Linked DNA regions of Homo sapiens. The protein of the gene in region 5 purifies or fractionates together with the protein of the main gene of each other region. This does not show direct contact. Each region holds a gene or a part of one and is shown on either strand. Other genes may lie near its edges. The genes, in order: UACA, GFPT2, HMBOX1, TMPO and HNF1B.

Region 1 (6,169 bases), on a different chromosome or scaffold from region 5:
TCTAAAAAAAAAGAGGGGAAGAAAATTTAAAAAGCTCCTAAATTCGAAGGCAATTTGCCAACATAGACCAAAGGCTTAAAGAAATGTGCATGCCCTGAAACTCAGTGATTCAATTTCTAGGAACCGACCCTAAAGGGTAATAAAAATATACTAAAATATTTATGCATAAGGACAGTCATAACCTTTGTGTATTAATGAATAATTATAAATAGCTTAAACACTACATGTAGAAAACTGCTTTATTAAATGAAACTTAAATAAATGGAATCTCATACACCAACAAAAATCATACTATAGAAAAACTATTTTTGAGGGAAAGGCCTTCAAAATAGGTTACATAAAAAAGTAAGCTACAATTCAGATTTACAGTGAATTCAATTTAATGGGAAAAGACTAGAAGGATATTTCTCAAAATGTTAACAGAGGCTTCTCAGTGGTAATGAGTGACTATTCATTGTGCTTTTCTGTATGTTCCTGTTTTTTTTAAAAAAAACATAAAAAATCATGGCATAGGCATTTGGTAAATATCAGCTGACTATTTTACATACATGTTTAAACAATGATTCTTTAAAACTTCGTAAGTATAAAAAGTTGGGAGGTTCACCCCTCTTCATCAAAAAAAAAAAAAAACTTAGTAAAACACTTGACTCTTCCTTCTCAGTTCTGAAGTTATTCCAGTGTCTTAGTGTTCACTGGATAAACTAGATTATATATGCAACACACACTGCCTCAAAGCAAGTGACCATAATGTAAGTAAGCAAATCCATGTTGTAGAGGGAGATGAACCAATACTGTTTATCAGTAAGGAATGTTTTGCTTCTTATAAACTGTAGTTCTACTACCTAAGTCTTTTAAAAAGTGGCTCTTTGTTAATGTGGACTTTTCTAGTTACAGAAAACTGCTGATACCTTTGTTGGTATTTTCCGATGCAGTCTTCAACAAGGTTAGAATGTCCAGATTGTCACCAATTCTTGCATAGTAAGAACTATCATGGCCAAGCGCATCCAGCAAGCTTATATCAGCACCATTTTTAATTAAGACTTCTACTGCATCTCTGCAACCATATTCGCAACCTAGCATGAGGGCAGTTCTAAATGGAAAAATGGAAGAGCAAAAGACTGAGAAAACTCCAAGGAAATATTGCAGAAATATTCTGCCCTATTGTTGAACACTGTCTTAGTGTTCACTGGATAAACTAGATTATATATGCAACACACACTGCCTCAAAGCAAGTGACTATAATGTAAGTAAGCAAATCCATGTTGTAGAGGGAGATGAACCAATACTGTTTATCAGTAAGGAATGTTTTGCTTCTTATAAACTGTAGTTCTACTTGAACACTAAGTTCAAGTAAGTGTTCAACACTACTTGAACACTTACTTGAACACTAAGACATGCTCCCTTCTTGAAGAATAGACACTACTTTAAGAAGTCATGCCTGTTACAGATATAGATTTTACTTTATATTCATTGCATTTATAAAAACATTTGCTTTGTCTTCTATATCCTTATATCCTTTAATTACTTCTACTACCAAACCAACCTCATTTATTCCACTTCTTCAATGTCCTACACGTAAATAATCACCACAAAAATTTTCCACAACTGATACTGTCACCCCATGTGATCAAAACCCAACTTTTTCAGTCCCTTCATGAACTGAACCACATCATGCAAACCTCCCCTAAGAATCCCTTCTCCTCCAAGAGAAGTATCAGATTCCATTCCTGATGTTCCTGCTTAGAAGAACCTTGATTCTTCTACCTGAAGACCTTCACATCTTCAGACTACAACTAACGCCATGCAACATGGATCATTGCTTTATTCTATTGCAATAGAACCACTGGCACTCAAACATCTCACAGTACATCAGCAAATACTAATCATGCAACAAAATAATTGTCATGAAAATCTAGAAGGACCCTAGAAATTATTTTGTCTAATCCTCTATTTTTTAGGATGGGGCTAACCAACACGTAATGAAATGAAATGACATATCCTATATCTAACTCTGTCTTCAATTGTGAATATTGGATCTCTTAAGGAAACTGACTCTTGCCTTTTCTCTGCTATGTATGCTGTGTTTCTCATATTCAAGCCTTGTCCCCCAACTCCCCTGTAGTTGCTGATAAGAAATTCTGTACAAAACAGGCATTAACAAAGTTTTTGTTATTTAAAAAATGCTACATATAAAACAGGAAAAAAAGAAATGAATATAGAGTATTAGAAACTAAGGTTATAAATTATGTTGAAAACCATATGCTATTTAGTCTATACAATATACACTGCCCTGCTTCATTGGCTTTTTGTGAATGCCCAATGAAAAAACATAGATAAAGTGCTTTGAAAAATGTGAGAGCTATAAAAAATATAAAGCACTGTATGTAGATCAACCAGATTATCCCTCTGTGATCCTAAAATTAAATTTAACTTTTTTTTTTTTGAGACAAGAGTCTCGCTCTGTTGCCAGCGCAGTGGCATGATCTCAGCTCACTGCAACCTCCGCCTCCTGGGTTCAAGGAATTCTCCTGCCTCAGCCTCCTGAGTAGCTGGGATTACAGGCACGCACCACCACACCTAGCTAATTTTTGTATTTTTGGTAGAGATGTGGTTTCGCCATGTTGGCCAGGCTGGTCTTGAACTCCTGACCTCAAGTGATCCGCGCCCAGCCGTAAAATTTAATTTTAAAATCCAATTTTCTTCATCATGCTTGGAATCAGATGATAGTATCCACAAAAACAAAGTAATATTAAAAAGCCACTTCTTAATCACATCTTTTTTTTTTTTTTTTAATATTTAAAGAGGTTTATTCTGAGCCAAATGTTAGCAACCATGGCCCATGACACAGCCTCAGGAGGTCCTGAGAATGGGTGCCGGAGGTGGTTGAGTTACAACTTGGTTTTATACATTTTAGGGAGACAAAAGTTACAGGCAAAGGTATAAATCAATACATATAAGGTATACATTGGTTTAGCTCAGAATGTCAGGACATTTCAAAGTAGGGGCTTCCAAGTCAAAGATTTCCTGATTGGGAATTGATTGAAAGCATTAAGCTTTGTCTGGAGAATTGAAGTCAATATAAAGAAATGCTTGAGTTAAGATAAGGGGAGTTGTAGAAGCCAGGGTTCTTTTTTTTTTTTTTTTTTTTTTTATACTTTAAGTTTTAGGGTACATGTGCACAATGTGCAGGTTAGTTACATATGTATACATGCATCATGCTGGTGTGCTGCACCCATTAACTCGTCATTTAGCATTAGGTACAGAATTTCCTCCTTTGAGATGCATAAAGAAAACAATTACAGCTATAAAATCTGACAACTAAAGACTATTTTTTATACTTTTATACTTCTAATAAACTACAAACAATAGAATACATGTTTGGAAGAATAAAATTAAGTCAAAAGAAACCAAAATTTTTACTAGTAACTACAAAAATCCCAGAAATTTTAGTTTAATTTATTGTAATACTTGAATTAAATGGAAGGGGTGTGTTTCAGATACTTTGTGACCATAAACTTCAGAATTGTAATACAACAAGCACCATGATACATTAGACCTACAGACAGAGATAGGGAGAATTCTGGATAGAAATTATTAGAGCACACCAACTAAAATAGTATCAAATACAGAAGCAAAAATAAAGCAAGGGACCTCTGCAGTACAGAAATGGACAGGTTCAGAGTAGGAGATGGCACTGTACCCTGGCAGAGTAAGGAGAGAAAACACCTTGAGAAAATCTATACTGACACATGTCAAGTTCCAGAACACTCAAGAACCACTTTACTCAAAAGATTCACTAATGAAGAAGTAACTACAGATGTACTTTTTAAATTCTTCTCCTATGTATCTTACTTGCACCCATTTCATTAAAGAGTTTTTTAAGCTTAAAACACCTGGGATGTAATTCCTCTCTCCTTCAGTTCTTTGATCCAAACATAAGGCCTAATCACTGCTTTTATTCACATTAACCCTGTCATCTTCCTCTATTTCCCTCTCCTTCTTTCTTCAGCAGACTCTGAAGAAAACTGACAAGTAGATGTTAATTCCAAGGAAAAGCAAGCCAGGGAAGGGGAGAACCCACAGGAAAGAAAGGCCAAGTCAGAGAACAGAGCTGCTGCTTTGACTTGGCCTTTCCATCCCTGTGTATCCAGCTGGTATCTGGGAGCCATGATAAAAGAATTACCTGTTTTGTTTGTCTCTGGAATTAACATCCGCTCCTCTATCTATCAGCAGTTGACATATTGTTGGCCTACTCATCTGAGTAGCCAGAACAAGTGGTGTCCGCCCGTCCTAAGCAACAGGAAAAATAAAACAGCATTAAGACAACAGATCTCCCAAAATGTAGAAGTTAGAATGCATGAGTTGAAATGAGAATAAACATAAACTAACTTACTACATCTTTGGCATTCACAGAGGCCCCATGGTCACAAAGCAGCTGTATGCTAGAAGGACAATCTGCCATTGCTTTAAGGAACAAAAGAAAATGATAAATGGTGAACATCTGTTGGTAAGACACATAGTGTTTTTCTAGGTCCATATAAGGAATAAGTTTTTCAATTTCTAAATTACCAAGCTTCACGTCCTTCACTCTTAGTTTAGCATTATAAGCACAATTTTTCATCTGAAAATGGATTAGACAAGATTATAAATTGTCTACAATTTATTAGGACCAAGGAATAACGTCAACCTTGTAGAAGACAAGAACACACTACTATTCTAAGGATAAGCACAGACAATAAAAATCAAAGCTAAATTTTGTACTTACAGTATATTTTTAAACATGGCTATAACTGACTTGATCCTTGAAGTGTTGGCTCAGTTTTTTTAAAGAATCATATCCATTTTTTATAGAATAGTCACAGTAAGTAAAGTATGAATCATACAATTCATATTTCTCATAAAAGCAGAGATTGCAATGTCTACCTTTATGCAAAGTAAGGTCATTTTGCTAATAATTATAAAATCACATTATGCTTCTTTGACTAACACTATAGTTCATATTTATATTAGGAAAAATTATTGTTAAATTCATAAAGTAGGATTATGTTTACAATCCCCATGAATTTTTTAAGCCTTATGAGTTGACATACATTATAAGCACAAAAAGTACTGACAAAGTGAGCATTCTTTTTTTTATTGGTGAAATAATAGAATTAAACCAAACATAAGAAAATCAAGTAAATTTTCACTTTTCGTCTCTAATCCAGCAAATCTTTTATATAAAATGTATCATCAGCTTTAAGAAAAAGATAAACTGAACCTGAAAACATTAATTCAGGAACTGTAAAATTAGCGACCCTTTACGTCCAATTATAAATGAGAATTTAAAAATGTAAAGCATAATAAATTCCAGAGTTTACAGATTACTAGATCATGAAGAACCGCTTAAAGCCAAAAAGAGAAAACTGCAAACCACCCAGAAATCCTAGACTTTGAGCTAGATGAAGTAAATGAGTTTGTTTATATATCCTCTCCTTTGGGAGTATGTGGGAAGTAGGGGCTTTGGAGATATTTGGAAGGCCAGAGAGTTGAACTGTAGCAGAAAATGCAGTATTTTACCAAAATTTGTTCTCCTCTTCTTCTACTATAGAGTAGGTTTCGGAATATGACTAGTCACCTAGAGAGTTTATTTCTGAGCCTCCCTTGCAGATAAATATAGCCAATTGATTTTGCTCCTATCAGTAGAATATGAATGGAGAATAATCTACTACTTCCAAGTCTGAGTTCCAGACTTTGGGCATGTATTCCACTAGGCTCTCTCCTCCTTCCTGCTAGCTAGAATACGGCTACGACCACAACTCTGCTTCAACCTTGCAGTTAAGGAAGATACTCACAGGTAAGTGGAGAAACAAGATAGAAAGAATTCAGTTTTAAAATGACCATGAGTGACCTGTCAATATATATCACTCAACAATTTTTTTAATAAGCAGCTGATATTGGAGTTCTTTTGTTATAGCAACTTAGTTTCCATCCTAGCTAATGCATCTAACTAATAAGTATAAAGATTTCAATTGGTCAAGTTGTACCAGTTTTTAAAGCAGGGATAATAAAATATATGGTTAACTTACAGGGGTCATTGTGAGGCTCAAATGATAATGGAAAAATGCTTTGCAAATACAGTAATACCCTTCTATATTAAAAAAAAGAAATGCATTGTGTGAGAAATTAT
Region 2 (6,169 bases), on a different chromosome or scaffold from region 5:
AGCTGATGGGGCAGGGACAGGGTGCCAGGGCCACAGGGCTGCCCAGAGGGTGGGCAGAGAGCCGTGCAGGGTCCTGCATCTCGGACTTGCCCTTTCCTCGCTGTCAGCATGCCATGCACGGAGCAGATGCTCAGCCCAGGTGACGGGGACAGTGCTCCAGCTGAGGCTGCACTGGCCACCAAGACGAGGGCATTAACCGTGGCCCAGCTGGGCTGCCATCCTCTCCCATCTCCTCCCCACCACCCCCATTTGAAAGACAATGCTAGGCTGGCACAGTGGTCCACGCCTGTAATCCCAGCACTTTGGGAGGCCAAGGCAGTCAGATCATTTGAGGTCAGGAGTTCGAGACCAGCCTGGACAACATGGTAAAAGCCCATCTCTACCAAAAATTCAAAAACTAGCTGGGCGTGGTGGTGCACGCCTGTAATCCCAGCTACATGGGAGGCTGAGGCAGGAGAATCGCTTGAATCCAAGAGGAGGAGGTTGCAGTGAGCCAAGATCATGCCACTGCACTCCAGCCTGGGAGACAGAACGAGACTCCCATCTCAACGAAAAAAAAAAAAAAGAAAGAAAGAAAAAAAAAAGAAAGACAATGCCAGTTACAAGTGGTTACCGGAAACATTCAGAGTTGATTTCCTTGGTCTTGGTGGGGAGTGCAGGGCTGTCCTCACTGAGCTCCATCTCCTGCACCTGCCCCCTGGAGATTCTGACTCCTGTTAAAGAACAGGCAGGTGCTGCTTCTTGGAGTGCAGTAGAGGCAAGGCCTGGGGTGCACTGTCAGTCCCCAGATGACTCTGCGTCATGGGTGGGGGCTGAGCTGCGGTGGCTGAACGTGCTGGCGGGAGATGCACATTGCAGCTATGCCTCCGCATGAGTCTGCTGAAGGAAGAAGCGTTTAGGTGGCTGCTGGCACGAGCCCATGGTCCTCTGGTCACTGGGAGGCCGGCACTGCAGCTGTCTGCGCCTCCAGACTGGAGCCGCACTCCTTACAGTGTGGCCCTGACCTAAATCAGCAGTGCTAGCGGGGAGTCGAGAGATGATTTATTTGACTGTCTCACCATTTCAATGACGTGGATTTGTGGTAACTGAATAGAGATGGATCTACCTGAACACAGGAAAAAAATTAATTCAAATAACACCCCAGTTTGTGTGATTTTGCTTGGAACCACTCTTTAGAAGTTATTAATGGGCAAATGCTTAATCAGATAATTAACTGAAGGTGTAGCTAAGCTGAATACGATGCTGTCGTTATACACGTGGCTGGCTAGGGAGGAGCAGGGGGTGAGCTAGGCTGACTCCGACTTGTTTGTCCTAAGGGGTGGCTGTGCGTGGGACTGGAGAGAGACAACAGCAGTGCCCGGGGCTGGTGTGGGGACACAGAGGTTGTGTCCCGGGCTGGTGCATGCTCTGGATGGTAGCCAGGCCTCTCCCCAGGCCCTTGCTGGGTGTCCTCAGTGCTGTCAAGCACTCCAGGCATCTGTCTGCCTTGCAACCCTTGGCTCTCTGCCTTCCAGAGTCATCCTTCCCCTGGTTCCCCTTCTTCCCCTCTGGCTGATCTGCTCCAGCCCCATCTGCCCAGTGTGACTCTGATCTCACCTCCTGTTTCCAGAAAATTAAAGAGATAACCTACATGCACTCAGAAGGCATCCTGGCTGGGGAGCTGAAGCACGGGCCCCTGGCACTGATTGACAAGCAGATGCCCGTCATCATGGTCATTATGAAGGATCCTTGCTTCGCCAAATGCCAGAACGCCCTGCAGCAAGTCACGGCCCGCCAGGTGAGGGCTCTCCACTGGACTGGGCCAGCTCTCTCCTGCTTTTCCCCATGCATGCCCACCTCACCACTGTCTGCCAGTACCAGTGATGGATGGTCTGGCCAGTGAGTGGCTGTGACCACACACCCTCCCCCGGGCCGCCTGTGGGGAGTGCACACACTTGGAAAGGAGCTGGTCAGCCCGCAGCTGTCCCACACAGCTCTTTGGTGGGGCCCAGGGACCCACACTGCTGTGAGCAGCACCAGATCCTAGCCTGGAGCTCAGGGGAGGTACTCCTGGTGGACATCCCTGGGGCAGGGTTTCCCCAGGTTCTGCGGCCAAGCAGCTCCGATGGGAACTACCTGGAGTTAGGTCAGGTCTCATAGGGCAGGGGCACAGCTTTCCATAAGACTGCCCTCGATTCAGGCACCTGTTGCAAGCCAGGGGTCCACCCACACATCTGAGCAACTGACTATGAATCCAAGGATTCCCACTCTCCCCTGAAGTTCAGTAATTTTCTAGAACGACCCATAGAACTCAGGAGATGACTATATGATTACAGTTTTATTATAAAAGATATAAATCACAGCCAACCCAAAAGAAGAGACCCCTAGTTTGAGGGCCCCAGATGTGAAGCTTGTGTCCTCAGGATGTGTCACCCTCCCAGCACGTCACTGTGTGTCGCCCGGGAGCTCCCCTGAGCTGCTAGCTCCAGTGTCCAGAGTTTGTATTGTGGTTTTATTAAGTAGGCAGGATGGAGTGAACCATTGGCCATGTGATCAAACTCAGTCGCCAGCCCCACTTTTGTCCTTGGAGGTTGGGAGGTCAGACTGACAGGCTCATGTCTCAAAGCCCCAACCTTCTAATCATGTGGCTGGCCTTTCTAGCAGGGCCAGACGCCATCCTGGAACTATCTACAGGCCCACCACGAGTCGTCACCTTAGCATAAAGTTAGGTATAGTCCAAGGGACCTCCCATAAATAACAAAGATGCTTTTGTCACATGGGAAAGTCCAGAAGCCAGGAGCTCCCTTCCTGGAACCGGCCACAAAGACCAACCAAATGCTTTGTACACAGCAGCTGCCCTGAGGTAGGAGGGCAGAGTTCATGAAGTTTCGGGGAGGTGAAATCCAATGAGGTGCCCCATCCAGATGTTGCCACCTGGCTCAGCACAGAGGTCAGAGTGAGGGTATAAAACACAATGGCATCATTTCCCCACTTAAAACCCTCCCATACCTGCCTGTCAAGCCACAGAGACCCACAGTCCTGCGTTATCTGGCCCTTTCCTCCTGTTTCAGTGAGTTCCAGGCACTCCAGCTTTCCTTCTGCGTCCCACTCTCATTGCGCCCGCGCCCGCCTCCGGGCCTTTGCGCTGGCCGCTCCTGCTGTCTGGAATGCCCTTCCCACAGAATGCTCCGCCGAGGGTTGTCCCCTCATCATTTAGGGTTCAGTCCAGATGTCTCCTGTTTTTGAGAGAGCTTTGGAGACCTCACCAGTCTCCCAATGACATTATCCTGTTTTCTAGCCTTGGTGGCATTTCTTTGGAATTCATTTTTTTTTTTTTTTTGTGACGGAGTCTGGCTCTGTCGCCCAGGCTGGAGTGCAGTGGCGCCATCTCGGCTCACTGCAAGCTCCGCCTCCCAGGTTCACGCCATTCTCCTGCCTCAGCCTCCCCAGTAGCTGGGACTACAGGCCCCCGCCACCACACCCGGCTAATTTTTTGTATTTTTTAGTAGAGACAGGGTTTCACCATGTTAGCCAGGATGGTCTCGATCTCCTGACCTCGTGATCCACCCGCCTCAGCCTCCCAAAGTGTTGGGATTACAGGCGTGAGCCACCACGCCCGGCCTGGAATTCATCTTTATTTCTTGGTTTGCTTGTCTAGGTTTTTGTTTTCTACCACTAGACTATGAGCCCCGCTAGAGTTAGGAGTGAGTCTGCCCCGCTCTCGGCAAGGCACAAATGGGTGCCAAATGATGCAGCAGGATGGCAATCTCCTTACCAGGGAAGGGGAAGAAACCCCCAAAAAGCATCAGACACTTTATCCTTTCCAAGCATTTGTGTCCCACACATACCACCTCACCCATGACTCCAGCAAATGCAAAAGAGGACTGTTCTCATCACAGTAATGTAGCTTCCAGATACTCTGTATGCATCAGGGATAGCTTCTTTCAGAGAGGGTCTATTTTATGATGCTATTTCTCTGCTCTAGGGTCGCCCCATTATACTGTGCTCCAAGGACGATACTGAAAGTTCCAAGTTTGCGTATAAGACAATTGAGCTGCCCCACACTGTGGACTGCCTCCAGGGCATCCTGAGCGTGATTCCGCTGCAGCTGCTGTCCTTCCACCTGGCTGTTCTCCGAGGATATGACGTGCGTCTAAAAACTGCACCTAACAGCAGAGAGGAGAGACATAACCCCAGAGTTCCTTTCTGTTCTTTAAATACTTGGAGTAAATAGTCATAGAGTAAATAATTTTATTTAAAGTAGCTTTCTTTTTTTTTTTTTTGAGATTGAGTCTCGCTCTGTCGCCCAGGCTGGAGGGCAGTGGCACAACCTCGGCTCACTGCAAGCTCCACCTCCTGGGTTCAAGCGATTCTCCTGCCTCAGCCTCCCGAGTAGCTGGGACTACAAGCACCCGCCACCATGCCTGGCTAATTTTTTGTATTTTTTGTAGAGACGGGGTTTCACCGTGTTAGCCAGGATGACCTTGATCTGACCTCGTGATCCACCTGCCTCAGCCTCCCAAAGTGCTGGGATTACAGGTGTGAGCCACCGCACCCGGCCCAGTAGAAGCGTACTTATGAACCATTCCTACCTTTCCTTCCCACTCCACCCTAAACAAATAAGTCCCATGGAATTCATATATATTCTTGCAAGAAAAGTTAATTTTTAACAGTACACACCAAGTTACCTGTGTTTAAAAGCATGAACCTTATTCTTTAAATCATGTTAACAGATCATGACACACATCAGGTGCACAGTAAATGTTTATTGAGGGACTAAACCTTATACGGTTAAATGAGGCTTCTGGACTAAGGAATCTGCCTCCAAGACGCAGGTCTCTAGGTTGGTGACCATGGTGAACATCTGTCTCTTGTTTTTAAGTACTCTGAAAATTGTCTGTGAGAGGTAGCATGTTGCTGAGATCTTTGGGGTCCTGAACAGTCACTTTCTTTCATTTTAGGTTGACTTCCCCAGAAATCTGGCCAAGTCTGTAACTGTGGAATGAGGCTGAGACCGTGACAAGACCATCACCACCTTTCATCTGATTCCAGACCTGTCCCAACAGCAGGGATGCTACATGGGAAGAGAAGTGGACATCCCACATGTTCTGCGTGCTCCTGTAGAGCTTGACAGCTTCCACGTGCCTTCTACCCAAGTGCTTTTGCTTACAGCAGATACTGTTTCTCTGTGTCCTGAAGTCGCCAGAGGAGAAGGGAATCATTGTTTACACATGGGGATCAGAGCAGACTTCTCCACTACTGTGCAATAGAGATACAGCTCTCTTCAGAGTAACTGTGAACCTTTTATAACCAACACTAGAGTTAGTTTTAAAAGACAAGATATTTATAATGACGACTGTATAGCTTTTAAGTTATTTTTCTAGTATGTGGCTTTCTGTAGCCGTGGTAACGGCCAAACTGTTCATCCTAGCTACCCATGCTCTGTGTCCAGGCTTGCTCCTGGCAGGTGGCATTCATCTCAGATGTGAGCACAAGGCATTGGCCCTCTGGACTCCTTTCTCCTTTTCTTTCCTCTCTAGGCTGCTCCTGAATCCTGTTCTCTGACATCCGTGGAGCCCCTCCTGCATCCACCTATGCCTCCTATAAGTCCAGTTGAAATCTCAGCCTCCTTCAACATTTTCTTCTCGTGTGTGGCCCACATCCCTCCACTTCTCCAACTTCTGTTTAATCTGATCACGGCTCTTTTTAAGCCCTGGCAGCATTTTGGTCCCTGCTCCTTGCCCATAGTAAAACAGCTTGAAATATCCCATGCAAGAGAGTAGTTTCAAGTGGGCAACTCTGCTCTCTATTTAAAAGCGTGCACAATCAAAAGTACTATGCAATTTTAGGACAATAAAGAACATACAGTTTTTTTGTGTGTGTTTGCATTTTGTTAACCTCATTCTTTTTGTGTACTTTGAATTTTGAGGACTGTGCAGGAGCTCGGCAGTGTTTGGAGGGGCAGCCCTGTTTGTTAGTAACATTGGCCTCGTCCACACCTGAGACCTATGGGTTTCTAGTAGGAAAAGGAGGGCTGTTGTCCAGGATACAACAAATCCAAGAGATTTGGGACTCAGCAGAGGGGCCACTGAACCTGGAAGGGGTTGGGCAGAACCTGTAGACAGCATAGAGGGGTGAAACTCTCAAATTTGTATTTTTTTCCCAATAAGGCTATTATAGTCCCTGGTTT
Region 3 (6,169 bases), on a different chromosome or scaffold from region 5:
CAAGGCCTCAGACATTCAGTCCCAGCACAGGAATGTGGACATCAACCTCCAAGGTCCCTAAGGATCCCTGCCTCCTGGTCTGCACACCTCCGTATAGTCCCTTCCCACACTGCACCATGATTAGGCTGTGCGACCAACAGCATGTGGCAGTGATGGTATGTCACTTCAAGGATCAGAATACAGAAGACACTATGACATCTGTCTTGGATGCTTTCTCTCTTATTCACTCAAGGGAAAACTAGCTGCCGTGTGAGGACACTCAGGCAGTGGATGGTGAGGCCCATGTTGTGAGGAACTGATGTCTCTGACCAACAGGCAGTGAGGACCTGGGACCTGTCCACATCCACATGAGTGAGTTTCCAAGTGGACCATCCAGTCCCAATGACTGCAGCCCAGGCTGACAGCTGGACAGCAACCTCTACAGAACTCTGAGCCAGAAACAACCAGCTAAGCCATTCCTGGATTCCTGATCTATGAAAACTATGAGATAATAAATGCTGGTTGTGTTAAGCTGCTAAATTGTGGATAATTTATTGTATAAGAATAGATAACTAATAAAAATTATCACAATCATCCTCAGTTGTTTATTTCCCTTTATCCCCCAATACACTATTATTAATTATTCAAATGTATAAATTTGGCAGCAAAAAATTTCCCTTTAATATAGAGACTTCACTACTAATAAGAATGAGCATCTTTTCCTGTTTATTGACCATTTATATCTTTTCTTGTGAATTTCTATCTGTTGTTCCTTTTTTAGGGGGTTATTCTTCTTATGGGTGCAGAGAAATCATAGCAATTGCTAGTCATACAGAATGCAATTTTTTTCTGGTCTGTCATTTGTTTTTTATAGTGTGCTTTGTGATCTTAATTTTAATACAGTCAAATTTGTCAGTCTTTTGTATTATGGCCAATGGGCTTGAATATCACTGAGTATCTTTATATCTTTCATTTTGTGTTTCAGCCTTTAATATGTATGTGATTTCTTATAGCATGTGATGGAAAGTAAATATTTAACTACTTAACATTTCTGCTTAAACAAGTAAGTTTGTCATCATATAATGCTTTAGAGATTTACAGCCCACCCTAAAACAGAGTTGGCAAATTATACCCACTGCCTATTTTTGTAAATAAAGTTTTATTGAAACATGCTCATGCTCATTCATTTACAGATTGTCTATGGCTATGAATGCACTGGAGCAGAAGAGCTGAGTAGCTATGATAGAGATCATATAACCTGCAAAACCTAAAATATTTACTGTCTGGCCCTTTATATGAAGTTTGCCAACCCCTGGTTTAAAAACATTTCTGCTCTACCCAACATGAAATTCTAAACTGAAACCCTTCTTTAAACAATTTAAAAGGGTTTCATTCTGCCAAAATAAACTGAGAATTCAGTCTGGGCCTAATTGAAAGTTAACTAAGTTTAGACATAAGCAGGAATTTGGGGGCTGGAGGGTTTCACAGTCTTATAGTGCTTTTCTGAAAACAAGTAGGGATTACAGCACAGCAAGAGCTCTGGAATCTACCTAATTAAAATTATATAAATGTTATTCTATAGCAAGGGTGAAAAGGACTAAAACAGAGCCAACCGGTTATCATGGCTGATCAAGATAAAGGTAGAAATAAGACTCAGTAAGGGAATACAACCTCTTGTCCAGGGGCTGACCCTTGTAAAGAAAGAAAGAGCTTCAGGATGGAGGGTGGGCAATAGGTCAGTGAATTCCAGGTAGTAGGCCACATCCATAATTGCGGCATGCTCCTTAGTAAGCAGAGTGGTAAATGGGTACAAATAGAACACAGAACAGAAAGAATCCTAACCAAGAGGTTGAAGGAAATAAGCCAACTAATAATAATGGTTCTTTCTTGGTATTGGGGTTTATTATTAATATTATGCTTCTTTGTAATATTCAGTATTGTCAAGACAGTCTCAAGAACTGAAGGAAATTCAGATGAAATAAAACTGGGCAGGAAGGAAAAGGAAGAGGGGAGAAGAAAAAAGGAGAAAAAGAAGACAGAAAAGTAAGTAGTGGCCTGGTTATTTTGAAAGAAATCAAGGCCGGGCGCGGTGGCTCATGCCTGTAATCCCAGCACTTTAGGAGGCTGAGGCGGGCGGAACACCTGAGGTCAGGAGTTTGAGACCAGCCTGACCAACATGGTGAAACCCTGTCTGTACTAAAAATACAAAAATTTGCTGGGTGTGGTGGCACACGCCTGTAATCCCAGCTACTCAGGAGGCCGAGGCAGGAGAATCGCTTGAACCCAGGAGGCAGAGGTTGCAGTGAGCCAAGATCGTGCCACTGCACTCCAGCCTGGGCGACAGAGTGATACTCCATCTCGGGGTGGGGGAAAAAAAAGAAATCAAGACAGTTTACACACAGAAGGTGAAAAATGAATAATCTTAAATTCATCAAAATACCTACTTTAAAACATAATGTTACATTACTTTTCAGATTTTTTTCTGGCTCCTTTTTCTTTTTCAATGTAGCAGTAGTTAAAAACAGCACAAAAAAGTACTCTGGAAACACTCTATTAATAACAGATTTGTTCTGGAAACCTTAGTTCATCTTGCTTTGGTTGAAATGGATGAAAAGCAAGAGCGAGTTCAAAATTACTGACTCTAACAGAAAAACACAAAGACACTAGAATGCAGGAACAATGTATTTAAGCCTTTAAACTCCTCTGAAGTAAAATACAGGAATTCTGGGTTGGCTAAGGTCCTAACAGGAAAAGTGTGTTGTCTATTTCCTTACAGAAATCTTTTTTCCCCCCATCTAAGTTTCCATTAAAACAAAATTTTGCACCTTCACCTAGCAAATCTAAACCCATGAGGAAAAAAAAAACCCAAAACTCTTTTCATAACTTGTTAAGACATATAAAAATTTGGTAAGTGTTCTCTTTACATATATCATAATGTCCTTGCTGATCAGGGTTAGCTCTGGGTGAGGGGACTATAAGCACATCATTACTACGCCATCCATAGGAACTAACCTCTCCAAAAGTAATTTCACATCTTCCCCCATGTCACACACGTTTCCCTGAGATCTAACACTCTGCAAGTGAAGGACTGGATGTTTCTTCTGATGACATTTATCTCATGTATTTGCTGCATAACCCTCTTGGCAAATTTTATTTAATTGTTTAGAAGCATGCAGAATATGCACCACATGCCAAGAGGAACTCAGCAAACCCTGTCTGCTATAGTAATGTTTAAATTAGACAAGGGAAAAAGACTGTGAACTTAATTTGATTAAATAAAGGGACTTTTGATGTCAACCATCCTGAATTTAGCACTCACTTTTTTTTAAAAAATAGGTATTTTCTTATAAGTGTTTTCATAAGAAACAAGATAAAATGTATTTGATTAGTTTCCATCAGCCTATTTTATTAATATGCCTTGGCAGGCTTTCATTTATGCTGGTAAATTCTGATGATGAGTCTGTTATCAGAGAACTACACTATATCAATCGGGTTATCAGTAAAATTAACCTAAATATCCATTCTATTATTTTTCTTGATGAGTCCACTTAAAGAGAAACTTACAAAAAACCAAAAGCCATATACAACTGGATCCAGACTGAAGAGGTTGAAAAAAAGAACTTCCGCTGGGTGCGGTGGCTCATGCCTATAATCCCAGCACTTTGGAAAGCCGAGGTGGGTGGATCACGAGGTCAGGAGTTCAAGACCAGCCTGGCCAACATGGTGAAACCCCATCTCTACTAAAAACACAAAAATCAGCTGGGCGTGGCGGCACGTGCCTGTAATCCCAGCTACTCCTGAGGCTGAGGCAGGAGAATTGCTTGAACCCGAAAGGCAGAAGTTGCAGTGAGCCAAGATTGCGCCACTGCACTCCAGCCTGGTGGCAGAGCTAGACTCTGTCTCAACAACAACAACAAAAGGACTTCACTCAAAGTATACAAAGAGAAATGCTCCAACGCCCAGGAATAGAGTCATAGAATATACAAACATTTTTGTTTTCTAAATGCTTAAATTTACAGAAGAAAAAAGAAAAAGTAGTTTTTCATTTTGTGACTTTTCTTAATTTTGCATTTTCTTCTCAGAATATATGTAAAGGGATCACACTATTTACATTTACCCTAAAGAGCTATCTTTCCTAGACAGAAAAAAAAATTATGAAATAAAAGAATTACTTGATAAAAATCACTGACAACTTATTTTCTACCTGCTTCTCAAAAGCAGGTCTGGACTGTATAAACCTAAGTTTTTCTTCCTTTTCTTTCTTTCTTTTTAATCTTACAAGGCAGATTGATTTCTTTTGGTCTGTCTCCCCCTTCCTATTACACTTTATTTTTCAAATATATAATACAAGTACATAGTATGAAATTTAGAAAGACACATTAGGCTGTGTAGTTAACTCCTTACCCCTGTACTCCCAGTCACTCAGTTCCCCTCCACAGAGCTATTCTTCCCAGTTCCTAACACAGCTTTTCAGAGATTTCTATGCTTAGATAAGCATATACATGTGTATGTGTGTGTGTTCCCCTACATAAATATGCCCTTGATACTGTTATGTACCTTTTTTACTTATGAATTCCATATCACCTCATATAAATTTAATTCATATAAAGCTGCCTTCAAAAAGTAGTTATATGGCTCCATAAGATTCCATTGTACAGATGTGCCATTAATTTATTTAACCAGTTCTCAACTGAGGGACATCTGGGTGGATTCCAATCAGGTCTGAAATGACTTGCAATGAAGGATCTGCTGTCCTATAAGCTAACATAATTTTAGTTCATCTTAACCAAACATAATAGTAGCTCCAAATTCTTTAGCTAAAATCAAAGGTTATTTTAGTCAACAAAACAAAATCACTTTTATCGAGAAAGAATTCTATGTGATATTTGCCTTTATAATAAATGTCAAAATGCAAAGAAAAAGACAAACAAATTTCAGTTGCTAATACCCAATTGCTGTTAACGCAACAACAACTACCAAATGGCAATTACGAACTTACCCTCTTATCTCTAGCTACCTTTAAATTATGTCCCACAGAAAAACTTGACTGAGAAAACCAGTAGTTAGGATTTGGTTTTTAAACAAAAAATAGAAAGTACTTTTTAAAAGGTGACAATAATGCAATCTTACTGAAAAACAAATGCATATAATTAGAGGAACGTCTTAAAAGGAGGCACTATGTACTTAAAGAAATCAGCTCCTAATTATCAGCTAGATGAATGCTGCTGGTTTCAATTCCCTAGTTCTACCTTCCTCTAATTTCCCAATACTGGTTTCAAGATAAACTAAAATAGGAAATTAAGACTAAAAGCTAAAATAAATAACAATAATTTAAAAAAAAAACCAGCTTTGGAAGAACACTATCAGCCCAGTGCTAAAGCTGGACTCCTGTAGTTAGTATTCCACAACTGGCTATCAGATCAGCTGCAACAATGCCATTGTGGCCCTAGAGCTGCACCTTAGTCGTCCTTCCTATTTCTAGTTCAGGGCTGGACTAGAGCCCAGCCCCGAAACTCCAGTGCGGGAATTTGGCCTTACCAGTTGATTATCCCATTTTGCAATCCCCATCAGAATAACAGATTCAATCAAGAATCATCAACGAATGCTAAGGTCATCGGTGAAAGCTGTTGCAGGAAAGGATATTCATCCAGGGGCAAAGTGTCACCCTAAAGATTATTCACAAACTGCAAAGAAAAGATCTGGTGGTCACCATTTTAACAAAACCATCACACTTGGCATATGAATAGTGCTACAACCTCCTAATGCTGACAGGCCTCTTAATATGCGGCAATATTAGGTAAACACTACCTACAAAGTATTTTTCTCCAGTGTTTTATTGCAAAAATTTTCAAACATACAATAGTGAAAGAATTTTTTAAGTGAAAACCATACTCATACCACATATTTTACTTTATCACATAGCTATCCATTTCCCTAAATACAATTCCATTTTATTTTCCGATGCATTTCAAAATAAATTGCTGCCATTAGTACGTGCCTCCCTAAATAATCTATGAAGTAATCTTGCCTAAAATATTCAGCATGAATCCTGACTTCAGATTTTAATTCTAACTTCCAGCTTACAGAAATACAGAAGATAAAGAAATTAGATATTTGATAATAAAAGTAAATAGAAAAATCCAGCATGTGGGACATTCTGTCAAATTACATGGCTTAAGAAGTTCATGTC
Region 4 (6,169 bases), on a different chromosome or scaffold from region 5:
TTTTGACTGAAGTCTTGCATTTATTTTCTCTACTACTACGTAATAGTACTTGCCAAGGTAGAAAAATCACATGTAAGCGGATTGTACCTCTATGAAAAATAACTATGATTAAATTTCCACAACTCTAAGACATTAATATGCCTGTATTCAGTTATGGGGAAAAGAAAAGTTCTATAAATCAGATTTAAATATAACAACTTTGCAGTTAAAATGACCTTTTATGGAAAACACATATCACAAAGCAAAATTGATTACAAATTCTTAATACATTTGAACATCAGTGACAGTTTAAAACCAAAATAGATTTTGTTTTACATTAACTGTATTATCTTTCCTTAACTCCTGGTAAGATGAGCAAAATGATAATGGATATTTTTTAGAAGCAACATGTGTCCAGAAATGTTATATAAATAGCCTTAAGATGAACAGGTCATACATCAACATATAATTTAATGTAGGCTGATATTATAACACACATTTTTCAGTGTCTCCCTTTTGGAATTTCTTTTTTTTTTTTTGAGACAAGGTCTTGCTCTGTTGCCCAGGCTGCACTGCAGTGGTGCGATCATAGCTCACTGCAACCCTGAACTTGTGGGCTTAAGCAATCCTCCCACCTTTGCCTCCTGAGTAGCTAGGACTACAAGTGTGCACTACATGCCTGGCTACTTTTTTTTTTTTAAATAGAGACAAGGTTTCACTATGTTGTCCAGGCTGCTCTTCAACTCCTGAACTCAAGCAATTCCACCACCTTGGCCTCCCAAAGTGTTGGGATTACAGGCATGAACTACCATGCCCAGGCCTTTTAGAACTTTAAACAAAAACATTTTTTAAAAGTGTTATATATCTGTTGGTACTTGTATATGAATAAGCTTATGATTATTTGGAAGCAGCTTATACATTAAAACAAAATATTCTAAATCTTTATTTGCAACTATACCTATAGCAAAACCTACCAAATCTCTAGCGTCCACAATTTTAGGTAACTTAGAAGATCAAGACCAGATGCAGTGACTCATGCCTGTAATCCTAGGACTTAGGGAGGCCTAAGTGGGAGGACTGCTTGAGCCCAGGAGTTCAAGACCACCCTGGGCAATATAGTGTGCCCCCATCCCTACAAAAACTACAAAAATTAGCCGGGAATGGTGGCACGTGCCTGTGTTCCCAGCTACTTGAGAGGCTGAGGTGGGACTGCTTGAGCCTAAGCTGAGGCTGCAGTAAGCCATGACTGTGCCACTGCACTCCAGCGTGGACAACAGAGCAAAGACCTTGTCAAAAAAAAAAATAATAATAAAATGGAATTTTCTCATCTTGAGGTTATTGCTAAGACCCTCCAAAACTAAGGCATAATCAACACTGCAAAATCTTCATCACCTAAAAGTAATCCAACGATGGAAATCCAGTGTATTTAGTCCTAGGTTTTTGTTTTTTAAGGGTATAATTCCTCAATTCCAATCAAGATAGGACTTTCAAAAGGGTACTTTTAATGATAAATGAAAAAGGGGCTCAGCGCGGTGGCTCACACCTGTAATCCCAGCACTTTGGGAGCCTGAGGTGGGTGGGATCACCTGAGGTCGGGAGTTTCAGACCAGCCTGGCCAACATGGCAAAACCCCATCTCTACTAAAAATATAAAAATTAGCCGGGCATGGTGGCAGGTGCCTGTAATCCCAGCTATTCGGGAAGCTGAGGCTGGAGAACTGCTTGAACCTGGGAGGCAGAGGTTGCAGTGAGCCAAGATCACACCATTGTACTCTAGCCTGGGCAACAAGAGCGAAACCCCGTCTCAAAAAAAAAAAAAAAATAGGGTACTAGGCTAGGAATTTAATAACTTCATTAAGAAGAAGTCTGTCACTAACTCACTTTTTCTTTTTCCCTTATTTATTTATTTTTTTTGAGACAGGGTCTTGCTCCACTGCCCCTGGCTGAAGTACAGTAGCCATCACGGCTCACTGCAACTTTGACTTCCCCCCACCATCTCAAGCAATCCTCCTGCCTCAGCCTCCTAAGTAGCTGGGACAATAGATTTGTGACACCACACCCTGCTAATTTTAAAATTTTCTGCAGAGATGGGATCTCCCTATGTTGCTCATGCTGTTCTTCAACTCCTGGGCACAAGCAATCCTCCCATCTTGGCCTCCCAAAGTGTTGGGATTACAGGTGTGAGCTACTGCGCCCGGCCATTAACTCATTTATTTGGGCAAATTTGCCCAGCTATGTTACCTCAGATTTTCCTCAATTGTCATACAAGACCCACGTCTCAGCAGAAGTACGATATAAGTGGCCAGGCACGGTGGCTCACACCTGTAATCCCAGCACTTTGGGAGGCCGAGGCAGGCGGATCACAAGGTCAGAAGATCGAGACCATCCTTGCTAACACGGTGAAATCCCATCTCTACTGAAAAATACAAAAAATTAGCCAGGCGTGGCAGCGGGCGCCTGTAGTCCCAGCTACTCAGGAGGCTGAGGCAGGAGAATGGCATGAACCCGGGAGGCAGAGCTTGCAGGGAGCCGAGATCGCGTCACTGCACTACAGCCTGGGCGACAGAGCAAGACTCCGTCTCAAAAAAACAAAAAACAAAACAAAACCAAAAAAAAAAAAAAAAAGTACGATATAAGCACCATATAAAACAATCTCAACAATAGAGGTAATTTTGGAGATTATCTAATTCAATCCTCTCATTTTATTTCACTCATTTACAGTCAAAGAAACACAGGTTCTGCTGATAACAAATGATTAATGACAAACCAGTCCTTGGAACCTAAACTGCTAAACAAAAAGGAGAAAATAATTTGGGGTCCTGCTTCAGAGAAAAGATACTGTATTTGAAATTTTATCAACTTACCCACAATAGGACCAGGATTCACTCCGTATTTCACAAGCTGATCCAAAAGATCTTCATTAGTGAGCTCTGTTACATCTAGATCATCTTTATCTTCTTGTCTGGGTTTATCAGTTTTTTTTGTGGCTTTCTGTAAACAAAGTCCAGTAATCATTTCCATATGAATTAAAGTGTTCACTTACTAGATAATAACCTGTATAACATAAACATGCAAACTCACTACCAAATTGGTTTATAGTAATATTAGGCCTTAGCAATTCCATTAAATTAAGAGCAACTCATTATTGGAGAACACTTTCTAAGTTGAACTGTAATCATACAAACCGCACAGCCAAGCAAGTAACTTAAAGACATTGTTGTTAAAATAGTCCATTTTGGATTACCTATCTAAAAGAGATAGTAATGGCATCAAAAATGCAAAAGAGCAACTAAAAGTAAAACTGACTTTGGGTAACATTTTCTTTTAAATAACCTTTTTTTTTTTTTTTTTAATGATACAGGGTCTAGCTATGTCACCCGGGCTGGAGTACAGTGGCTCCATCTCAGTTCACTGCAACCCCCACCTCCCAGGCTGAAGCGATCCTCCCACCTCAGTCTCCCAAATAGCTGGGACTACAGGTGCGCACCACCACCCTTGGCTTTTTGCCTGTGGTTTTTTTTTTTTGTTTTTTTTTTTTTTTGTAGAGATGGGGTTTTTGCCATGTTGCCCAGGCTGGTCTCAAACTCCTGGACTCAAGTGATCAGCCCACCTTGGCCTCCCAAAGTGTTAGGATTACAGTTGTAAACCACTGCACACAGCCTAAATAACCAAAAATTATATTTCATTTCTTAAAGCATATAACTCCAATGGCAACGGAAACAGATCAGCATGAACCATGGAAAGTAAAGCCAGACTGGGCTTAACATTTTTCATCTAAATGATCATGAATGCTACTTACTAACTTTTTGATAATCCTTAAAAATTTAAATTAATCCAGGAAAGTTTAAGACTTTACCATACAGGCTTACACTTAGATACATATATAGAAATGATTTTCTTTTCTTTTTCTTTTTTTTTTGGAGGTGGAGTCTCGCTCTGTTGCCAGGCTGGAGCGCAGCGGTGCAATCTTGGCTCACTGCAACCTCCGACTCCCGGGTTCAAGCGATTCTCCTGCCTCAGCCTCCCGAGTAGCTGAGAGTACAGGTGTGCGCCACCACGCCCAGCTAATTTTTGTACTTTTAGTAGAGACGGGGTTTCAACATGTTGGCCAGAATGGTCTCGATCTCTTGACCTCGTTATCTGCCCACCTCAGCCTCCCAAAGTGCTGGGATTACAGGCATGAGCCACTGCGCCCGGCCAGAAATGATTTTCTTTAAACAGCATATGAGAACTTAAGAAGGCCAAATGAATACAGTTGGCTCTCCATTCTCCCAAATGAATACAGTTGGGTTCTACATATGTGAATTCAACCAACCACAGATCAAAAATACTTGGGGAAAAAAAAGACAATACGACAATAAAAACACTAACAAAAATACAGTATAACAACTATTTACATAGCACTTACATTGTATTAGGCGTTATAAGTAATCTAGAGATGATCTGAAGTATAAGGGAGGATGTGTGTAGGTTACTACACCACTTTATATTAAGGGACTTACTAAAGCATCCCCAGAGTTTGATATCCATGGCCGGGTCCTGGAACCAATCTCCACCCCAAGGATAGGAGACAGGACTGTAAACTCCTTGTAACACAGTTATTTTAGTAGCTAGTTTATGACTTAGGAAGGAAATCTGACAGACTTCATGGTTAAATTATCACCTGTGACACAGTTTAGTCACCAGATTAACTTCTGTACCACCAGTTTACTAAAAATAGTCAAAATAACTTGAAACAAACTTTGAGGGAAAATTTGAAAGTTTTAAAATTAATTTCTACAAAGGCAGTATTTACTGGAAAAACTATAAATTTCCAAGGTTGAACAAATAAAAAGGAAGCAAAAGTACGGATACCTTTTAAGGCTGTGGCAAACAGCCTGACAAATGCCTCAGTGATCACAGAAAAAACATCAGAGTACTGAACAAAAAAATGGCTAATTAAACAATGGCAACATCAAAGTAAATTTTACGAAAAAGGCTAAAATTATCAAGTTGTATGGAATGCTCACTTTCCAATAATATTAGGGGGAAAAATCAGTCATGATTTGACTATGTACTGGAATTACTGTTTTTAACAATAAAAATGTTCTGACCTAGAATTGTCAGGCTCAAATCAAATCTTTTTTTTTTTTTTTTTTGAGACTGTGCCTCACTCTTATCCAGGCTGGAGTGCAGTGGCGCAATCTTGGCTCACTGCAACCTCTGCATCCAAGGTCCAAGTGATTCTCCTGCCTCAGCCTCCTGAGTAGCTGGGATTACAGGTGTGCACCACCACGCCCGGCTAATTTTTGTATTTTTAGTAGAGACGGGGTTTCAGCATGTTGGCCAGGCTGGTCTTGAACTCCTGACCCCAAATGTTATGCCCGCCTGAGCCTCCCAAAGTCCTAGGATTACGGGCGTGAGCCATGGAACCTGGCCTGAAATACTTCAAATAAAGCAAGATATGAGAAATTCTTTTTAAAAAGCTGCTAATGGCTAATCATTCTATAATCAGAAGCCAAAAAACCTTCACCAAAAAAATAGCTGCTCATAAGAACAATTATGTCAACTTACGAGAAATCTTAAATAGACGGCTGTGGAGAGTTACAGTGAGAGTACTTTTAGCAGGCTTTAATTCACATACATTGCACTGACCTAGAACTGTCAGGCTCATATCTGGAAGCAACCCACACCATAATATCCAAATAGTTGCCTAGGGTCTAAGAGTTCTAAGACTTATTTCTTTCAAGAAAAGATTTAATCAAACAAACTTAATCCTATGTTACTGACTTACTCAAATTTTCCAAAAAGTGCAGTCAGGTAGTACAGAAAAACTAAATAATGCTTAAAATAAAAATAAAACATGGAAAAACAATCAATCAGGTTCAAATTATTTGTACATAATCCCCACTACCACGAGAATGTTCAAATTTACTATCAATAAAACATCCAGGAAATTCCAACTTTTCAAACCCGCCTGAGAGGTTTTCAAGAAATCTCTTTGGGCCAGGTGCAGTGGCTCATGCCTGTAATCCCAGCACTTTGGGAGACCAAGGTGGGTGGATCACTTGAAGTCAGGAGTTCGAGACCAGCATGGCCAACACGGTGAAACCCCGTCTCTTTTAAAAATGCAAAAATTAGCCGGGTGTGGTGGCACATGCCTGTAATCCCAGCTACCTGGGAAGCTGAGGCAGGAGAATTGCTTGAATCTG
Region 5 (6,169 bases):
ACAATGGCCATTGTCTTCCCAGTAATGCCCCTTGCCCCAACCACGCCCCCTGTAGCTCCCAGCTTCAGCTCCGTGGATCGCTGTGGTGGGCAAGCACACTGGTACTGCTCAGTGCCAGCCATGTGCCATTTGCCACAACCCTCAGAACCCTGCTTTGAATTTCCCTAAAGGGGCGAAGTTACTCTGCAATCAGGCCAGTCTTTGCCTAGGGGCTTCTCTGCCTCTTAAGTAACCAAGACTTTCTTCCTGTGTGGCTGAGCCTCTCTCCTCTGTGGGAGTGGGACCTACAGAAACCCCCAGCACTGGCCCCACCTTCATGCTGGGCACTGTCAGGCTCCCAGAGGCCCTGGAAGAGGCAGTGCTATGGGAGGGCACAGCAGGCATGGAACAAATGCTTGTACACCACCCAGCTGATGGCTCCGAGCCTGTCTTGGTGGCTTTGGTCCCCTCAACACTTGGGTCAGCCCCCAGCCCTCAGGCCTTTCTCATCAGAAGGGCAACCGACAGGTGAGGGGAGCCAACAGGTTTCAGAATCACCCCTGAGTTAGAAACAGTGTTTGGCTTTCCTTTCGCAAGCCCTTTTCTTGGAGCAGGCAGGAGGCTGCTACACTTTGTCCTCATGGGCACCACACAGACCCCAGTGAGCACATCCATTCTAGGAAGCCAGCTTTGCCAGAAGAATGAAGGACCAGAAGAAGTGCTCCATCCCAGCCTGTGCCTAACACAGCGCTCAGCATGAGGTGTGCTTTCCCCCAAGGAGGCTGTAGGATTCCATCCTGACAAACCCAAAGCCCACAGCAGAGGCATTCTAATCCAGGCCAGGGCCCAGCACACAGGAGCACTCAATCAAGCATGATGGAGCAGGTACTCGGTCAGTTTTTCCCAACTCATTGCTGCAAAGATTTCAAGTGACTGACCCCCACCAACCCTGATGACACACGGAAGCCAACAAGCAGAGGCCACCAACAGAGTGGCCGTCCCCAAAGGCTACTGAGCTTCTCCTGAGGCAGCCGGACCGAGCGAGGGGCAGGATATGGCCAGAGATGGAGGAGGTGGCCGGAGTGCCATCCTCCAACACAGTGAGGGTTGCCACGCCATCACGACCCGTTTGCCTGCGGTTTGGATCTGGCCCACCCATAAGGCAGCCTCCTCAGTGTAGAATGACCGCTGAGTCAGCAGCCACACAGGGAGAAGAAGAGGGAAGGAGACAAATAGGGTAAAGGGCTCCCTGGAAGCCGAGTGAGCCCTCACAGGGCAATGGCTGAACCAGGAGTTGGAGGAAACTGATCAGAGCCACACATTATTTCCAGGGGAGTATATTCTGGCAATGAGAGAGCGGCCCTAGGATCATCTCAAAAGCGTTTGCTCCTCTGAAAACCCTTAAACCAGATAAGATCCGTGGCAAGAACCAGGATGGTTGGGTTGCCGAGGCAGTGAGGCCCAACCTTTGCTTACCTGACAGCTTGTTTGGAGGAGAGGAGCTGGGCTGGTGGTGGGGGGAGCCGTGGGAGAGCAGAGGGTTCAGGCTGTGAGTCTGGTTGGAGCTATAGGCGTCCATGGCCAGCTTTTGCCGGAATGCCTCCTCCTTCCTGCGGTTTGCAAACCAGTTGTAGACACGGACCTCAGTGACCAAGTTGGAGCCCAGGCCGTGGGCTTTGGAGGGGGACACCCCTCGCTGCAAACATTCTGCCCTGGGAATGGATGGAGGGGAGATGGTGAGTGAGGGGGGGCGGGGGGACTTGTTGGTGCTTGGCCAAAAACACACAATCACAGCAGTCTTGGTTGGGAGTATGAAGGGGCCGTGGGCAGAATGGAAGGCTGGGGAGGAGAGGCCTATGCAGAGAAAAGGCCAATCCATGGAGTGATCTGATGAAGATGGCTGAAGTGGGCCTGAACGCAGGGACAGAGCAGGCTATGCCGCCCTGGGAGTCAGGGGCTTAGGCTCTGGTGTGGCTCTCGAGGAGAAGAGAGCAAGCCGGGGACAGGCAGTCCAGGGGAAGGTCCAGATGGGGCTTCCTTATTTAGCCATTCTTCCCACCACATAAAAGGCAAAGCCCTTCGCTGGCTCTGTCTTGAGTGGCTTCAAAGCACTTCGAGAGGATTTCTGGTCTTTTGGGGCTTGAACTCCCTGAAAGAGTGCCAGGAAGCAAGATGCTTTATCCCCTCCAAAAGGCAGGCTGGGTGGGGTACAAAGCAGGGTGCATTGAGATGGCCAGTCTCTAGCTTTATCAGGGCTGGTGAAACCTCAAAACCAGGTGCGAGAGATTCTTAGACACTACTGGGTGCTGCAAGGCATCTCATTAGTCGGGGTATGGAGCACAGCCTGAGGACTCAGTGGCAATACAGGCCTCCCTGCTTCCCAGCCTGACCTCCCTGGCTGCATTCTTCCCACAGCCAAGGCCAGCCCAGCCCAGAGACAGAGAAAGCGCACACAGGCCTTGGCCAGACCAAAGAGCTGAAGTTTTAGAAAGTCAATACTGGAGTCAGGGAGAACAGGGCAGGAATGAAGTAAAAAGATTTCCCAAGGCTTTCCAATCGTTTAAAAAAAAATAGCTGGGCCCTGTGGCTAGAGCCTGTAATCCCAGCTATTTAGGAGGCCAAGGCAGGAGGATCGCTTAAGCCCAGTTCAAGATCTGCTGGGCAACATAGCAAGACCACATTTTAAAAATAAATACTTAAAATAACACAGAGTTGTTTTTTTGTTTTTTTGTTTTTTTTTTAAATAGAGATAGGGTTTCACCATGTTGCCCAGGCTGGTCTCAAACTCCTGGGCTCAAGCAATCCTCCCGCCTCGGCCTCCCAAAGTGCTGGGATTATAAGTGTGAGCCACCGTGCCTGGCTGGTAGTTAACAAGTAAAAAGAACTCTGTTGAGTCAGCGGGGGCAGAGTGGACTGAACAGATCTGACCAATTCTTACTCTCCTGCCAAGTTTCCTTTTGGACCACTGCATGTCTGACAATTGGTAGAGGCCAGATCTAGAGTCTGTGGCTAAGGGAAAGTTTTACCCTGGCCTGCAGGGAGGTCAAACACACAATTTCGCTTCCCAAGTATCATATTTTAAATTAGCATTCTCCAGAGTATCTTCCCTGGAAGAATAATTCATGGGGTTGTTTGTACTCTACCGAAGATTCCATAGTTAACAACCAATTCAACAAAGCTAAGTGGGTTTCTTGACTGCAGGGCTTCTCGGAACCTTTAATATATGTTGTGACTCTCTAAGGGGAAGTATCCATATGCTGATTCTCAGACTTACTGATTAATGAATTGATATTGGGGTTCTGTGGAACATACTTTGAGAAGCTCTGATTTAGCCACACTTATCTGTATAACTAGTGTCTCAATATCCCAGGACCGAGGGGAGGGTTCCTGGGTCTGTGTACTTGCCCACCTGCCCAGGTGAGCTTCTGGTGGTGTTACCTGTTGCATTCCTCCACTAAGGCCTCTCTCTCTTCCTTGCTGGGGTTCTTTTGCCGATCGTAGGCCTGGTACAAGATTTGCTGGGACGCGGGCCCCCATTTGAACCGGTTGCGGCGCATCTTCTTGTTGGTGGGCTCAGAGCAGGCATCATCGGACTGCCCAGGCCCATGGCTCTGTTGACTGAACTCTGGAAAGAGAAACAGCAGCTGATCCTGACTGCTTTTGTCTGTCATATTTCCAGAACTCTGGACTGTCTGGTTGAATTCTGAAAAGAGAAAGGAGTAGATTTGATAGGGTCTGTAGCCTTCACTCAGCAGACAGACAGACAGACAGACAGACAACGGACGAAGACACCTTTATTCCCCTCGTCTAACTAAGCTTTGCAACCTTCTCTCACTGCATGTGGAGCTGGAGATGGGGAGCCCTCAGCACAGGCCCTTACTGCCCACCTCAGTTGCTCCAGCAAAGCCACCCTTTTCCTTTCTTTGAAGGAGCTCAAACATAGCCAGCTATAGTTTTAAGAAAATTATTATTTTTTCCCCTTTGGCTCACTGGCCTTCAGAGATGAAGCAACACTCTGCATCCTGAACTCCTGTATTTGATGTCAAGTGGGTGAGCTCAATCAAGTCTCACATCCAGGGGAGAACTGCTCAAAGGTACAATTTACACTTGCACAAAATATTCAGAGGCTGTAGATAGCACTCCCCACCTCTCCTCCCTCTTCCTATATCCTAGGTATCTACATTATAAAGTCAGGTTTTTAGAAAAACCCCAAACCTTTTGGAACATGCTTTGAAATAAATATAACTGGAGCTTTGTATTGGAAAAAGAAAATGTGCTTTAGATCTCAAAATAATTTCAAAGACTACAAACACAGGACCTGTCTGGGAGTAGTGTTTAATTAGCTGGAAATGATGCTCCCTGTCTGTCCAATTCCTTGAGTCCAGGCATACTGTGACCATCAGGAGATTTTTGTGGAATGAATGAGAACCAGCAGCTCGGCCCAGAGGTGATGCCTTAGCCCACATGGTTTAATGAGATTTGATATCTACATTACCGAAGAAGAAAGCTTTGCTGTCCTCGTCTTCACATCTGCATGAAGCAGGGCTCATCAGGAGTGATTAATTCCATTTTAAAGATGAATAAACATGGAGGCTAAGCACTCTGCTGAGCAAAGACACGTAATACATTCATCTCCTAGCTCTGGGTCCCTATGTTCTGGATCTTAATATCTTTTTTTTTTTTTTTTGAGACAGAGTTTGCCTCTTGTTGCCCAGGCTGGAGTACAGTGGTGTGATCTCGGCTCACTACAATCTCCGCCTCCCGGGTTCAAACAATTCTCCTGCCTCAGCCTCCTGAGTAGCTGGGATTATAGGTGTGCGGCACCATGCCCAGCTAATTTTTTGTATTTTTAGTAGAGATGGGGTTTCATCATGTTGGGCAGGCTGGTCTCAAACTCCCGACCTCAGGTGATCCACCTGCCTCAGCCTCCCAAAGTGCAGGGATTACAGGTGTGAGCCACCGTGCCCGACCTTGATGACTTTCTTTCTCAGTTCCTGTAATTACTCCCACAGGTCACAGAAAGTGGAAGGCTACCACCTCCCTTTGTGATGTAAATGATGTGCCATCATTTACATGCCATCCTTCCTGTTCCTTTGGACAACTGGATCCAAAATCCTCAAGGTTCAAGTCAGGCTACTACTTAACGTTTGAATCCCCTCTACAACCCCACACCAAGTGGCCCTCCAGGCTATATGCCTCCAGCAGCAGGGAACTTACCACCTGTCTTAGGCTCATTTCCATTTTGCTCCATCGGGAGGAATGGTTAGGGCCCCTAGCCCGCCAAGACTTGCAATCCCAACTGCAGGTGGTGTTGGGCTTTGTTTAACTGTGGACTGATGGTGTCACTGGGGCCTTTGATTTCGGCCCATTCACCTTGGAGGATTCTTAGGCCACCTTAGGGCTCTGTTTTCAGTGGTGCCCAACAATGCCACTATAGACCTGAGAGAGTCCCTGTCAAATGTACTAGCAGGAAGTCACTGCTAGTGGGATCATGTGGGGCCCCAGCTTAATTCCCTCATCATTTAGTCTCCCCAGCTGTGGAATGAGACTGACTGAAAGCTTAGGGACACTAACTAGTCTTTTAGAATATCTACCCCTAGTCAGGATGATAGTGATGTTGGCCCAAATTCCTTTGGGGGTTATACTTTTTCTTTTTTTCAAACAAGGTCTTGCTCTGTGACCCAGGCTGGAATGCAGTAGTACGATCATAGCTCACTGCAGCCTTGACCTCCTGGGCTCAAGCCATCCTCTCGCCTTAGCCTCCCAAGTAGCTGGGACTACGGATGTGCAGGCCACCACATCTGACTAATTAAAAAAAATTATTTTTGTAGAGACGGGGTCTCGCTATGTTGCCCAAGCTGGTCTCAGACTCCTGGCCTCAAGCAGTCTTCCCGCCACCTCAGCCTCCCAAAGCATTGGGGTTACAGGCGTGAGCCACCATGCCCCACCTGATTATACTTTTCAAAGTGCTTTAGCCCCTCTATGGTATTTGACTTCACAGCAGCTCTCTAAATGCAGTTACTTGAGGGGAAATCCAAGGGGGAGAAGGAGATGTCCCCTGCTCAGTGAGGTCTGTCACAGTGTCTTCCCTCCTCCCCGTGGGCCCTGTGTGGCACCAGTAGAGTCACCAATGGCGAAAGCCAGTGTGGATCATCCCAAGGGCCTGGGAGCAATGTGAGATTTTTTCATT

What was found.
Region 1: the proteins of HNF1B (region 5) and UACA purify together in Homo sapiens (affinity purification with mass spectrometry, with the first as the bait; one large-scale study listed by BioGRID). This does not show direct contact.
Region 2: the proteins of HNF1B (region 5) and GFPT2 purify together in Homo sapiens (affinity purification with mass spectrometry; one large-scale study listed by BioGRID and IntAct). This does not show direct contact.
Region 3: the proteins of HNF1B (region 5) and HMBOX1 purify together in Homo sapiens (affinity purification with mass spectrometry, with the first as the bait; one large-scale study listed by BioGRID). This does not show direct contact.
Region 4: the proteins of HNF1B (region 5) and TMPO purify together in Homo sapiens (affinity purification with mass spectrometry, with the first as the bait; one large-scale study listed by BioGRID). This does not show direct contact.

What each region holds. Positions count from the first base shown.
Region 1 is NC_000015.10:70,683,357-70,689,525, forward strand, and holds part of UACA (uveal autoantigen with coiled-coil domains and ankyrin repeats), read right to left. Parts: intron 4,465-6,169; coding exon 4,394-4,464; intron 4,291-4,393; coding exon 4,184-4,290; intron 1,091-4,183; coding exon 909-1,090; intron 1-908. UniProt on the Homo sapiens protein: Regulates APAF1 expression and plays an important role in the regulation of stress-induced apoptosis. Promotes apoptosis by regulating three pathways, apoptosome up-regulation, LGALS3/galectin-3 down-regulation and NF-kappa-B inactivation.
Region 2 is NC_000005.10:180,300,380-180,306,548, reverse strand, and holds the end of GFPT2 (glutamine--fructose-6-phosphate aminotransferase [isomerizing] 2), read left to right. Parts: intron 1-1,609; coding exon 1,610-1,777; intron 1,778-3,964; coding exon 3,965-4,126; intron 4,127-4,940; coding exon 4,941-4,985; 3' UTR 4,986-5,851; downstream 5,852-6,169. UniProt on the Homo sapiens protein: Controls the flux of glucose into the hexosamine pathway. Most likely involved in regulating the availability of precursors for N- and O-linked glycosylation of proteins.
Region 3 is NC_000008.11:29,010,868-29,017,036, reverse strand, and holds part of HMBOX1 (homeobox-containing protein 1), read right to left. Parts: intron 5,664-6,169; coding exon of another isoform or gene 5,653-5,663; exon of another isoform or gene 5,519-5,652; intron 2,003-5,518; exon of another isoform or gene 1,915-2,002; intron 1-1,914. UniProt on the Homo sapiens protein: Binds directly to 5'-TTAGGG-3' repeats in telomeric DNA. Associates with the telomerase complex at sites of active telomere processing and positively regulates telomere elongation.
Region 4 is NC_000012.12:98,524,686-98,530,854, reverse strand, and holds part of TMPO (thymopoietin), read right to left. Parts: intron 2,970-6,169; coding exon 2,843-2,969; intron 1-2,842. UniProt on the Homo sapiens protein: May help direct the assembly of the nuclear lamina and thereby help maintain the structural organization of the nuclear envelope. Possible receptor for attachment of lamin filaments to the inner nuclear membrane.
Region 5 is NC_000017.11:37,730,140-37,736,308, forward strand, and holds part of HNF1B (hepatocyte nuclear factor 1-beta), read right to left. Parts: intron 3,683-6,169; coding exon 3,418-3,682; intron 1,692-3,417; coding exon 1,456-1,691; intron 1-1,455. UniProt on the Homo sapiens protein: Transcription factor that binds to the inverted palindrome 5'-GTTAATNATTAAC-3'. Binds to the FPC element in the cAMP regulatory unit of the PLAU gene. Transcriptional activity is increased by coactivator PCBD1.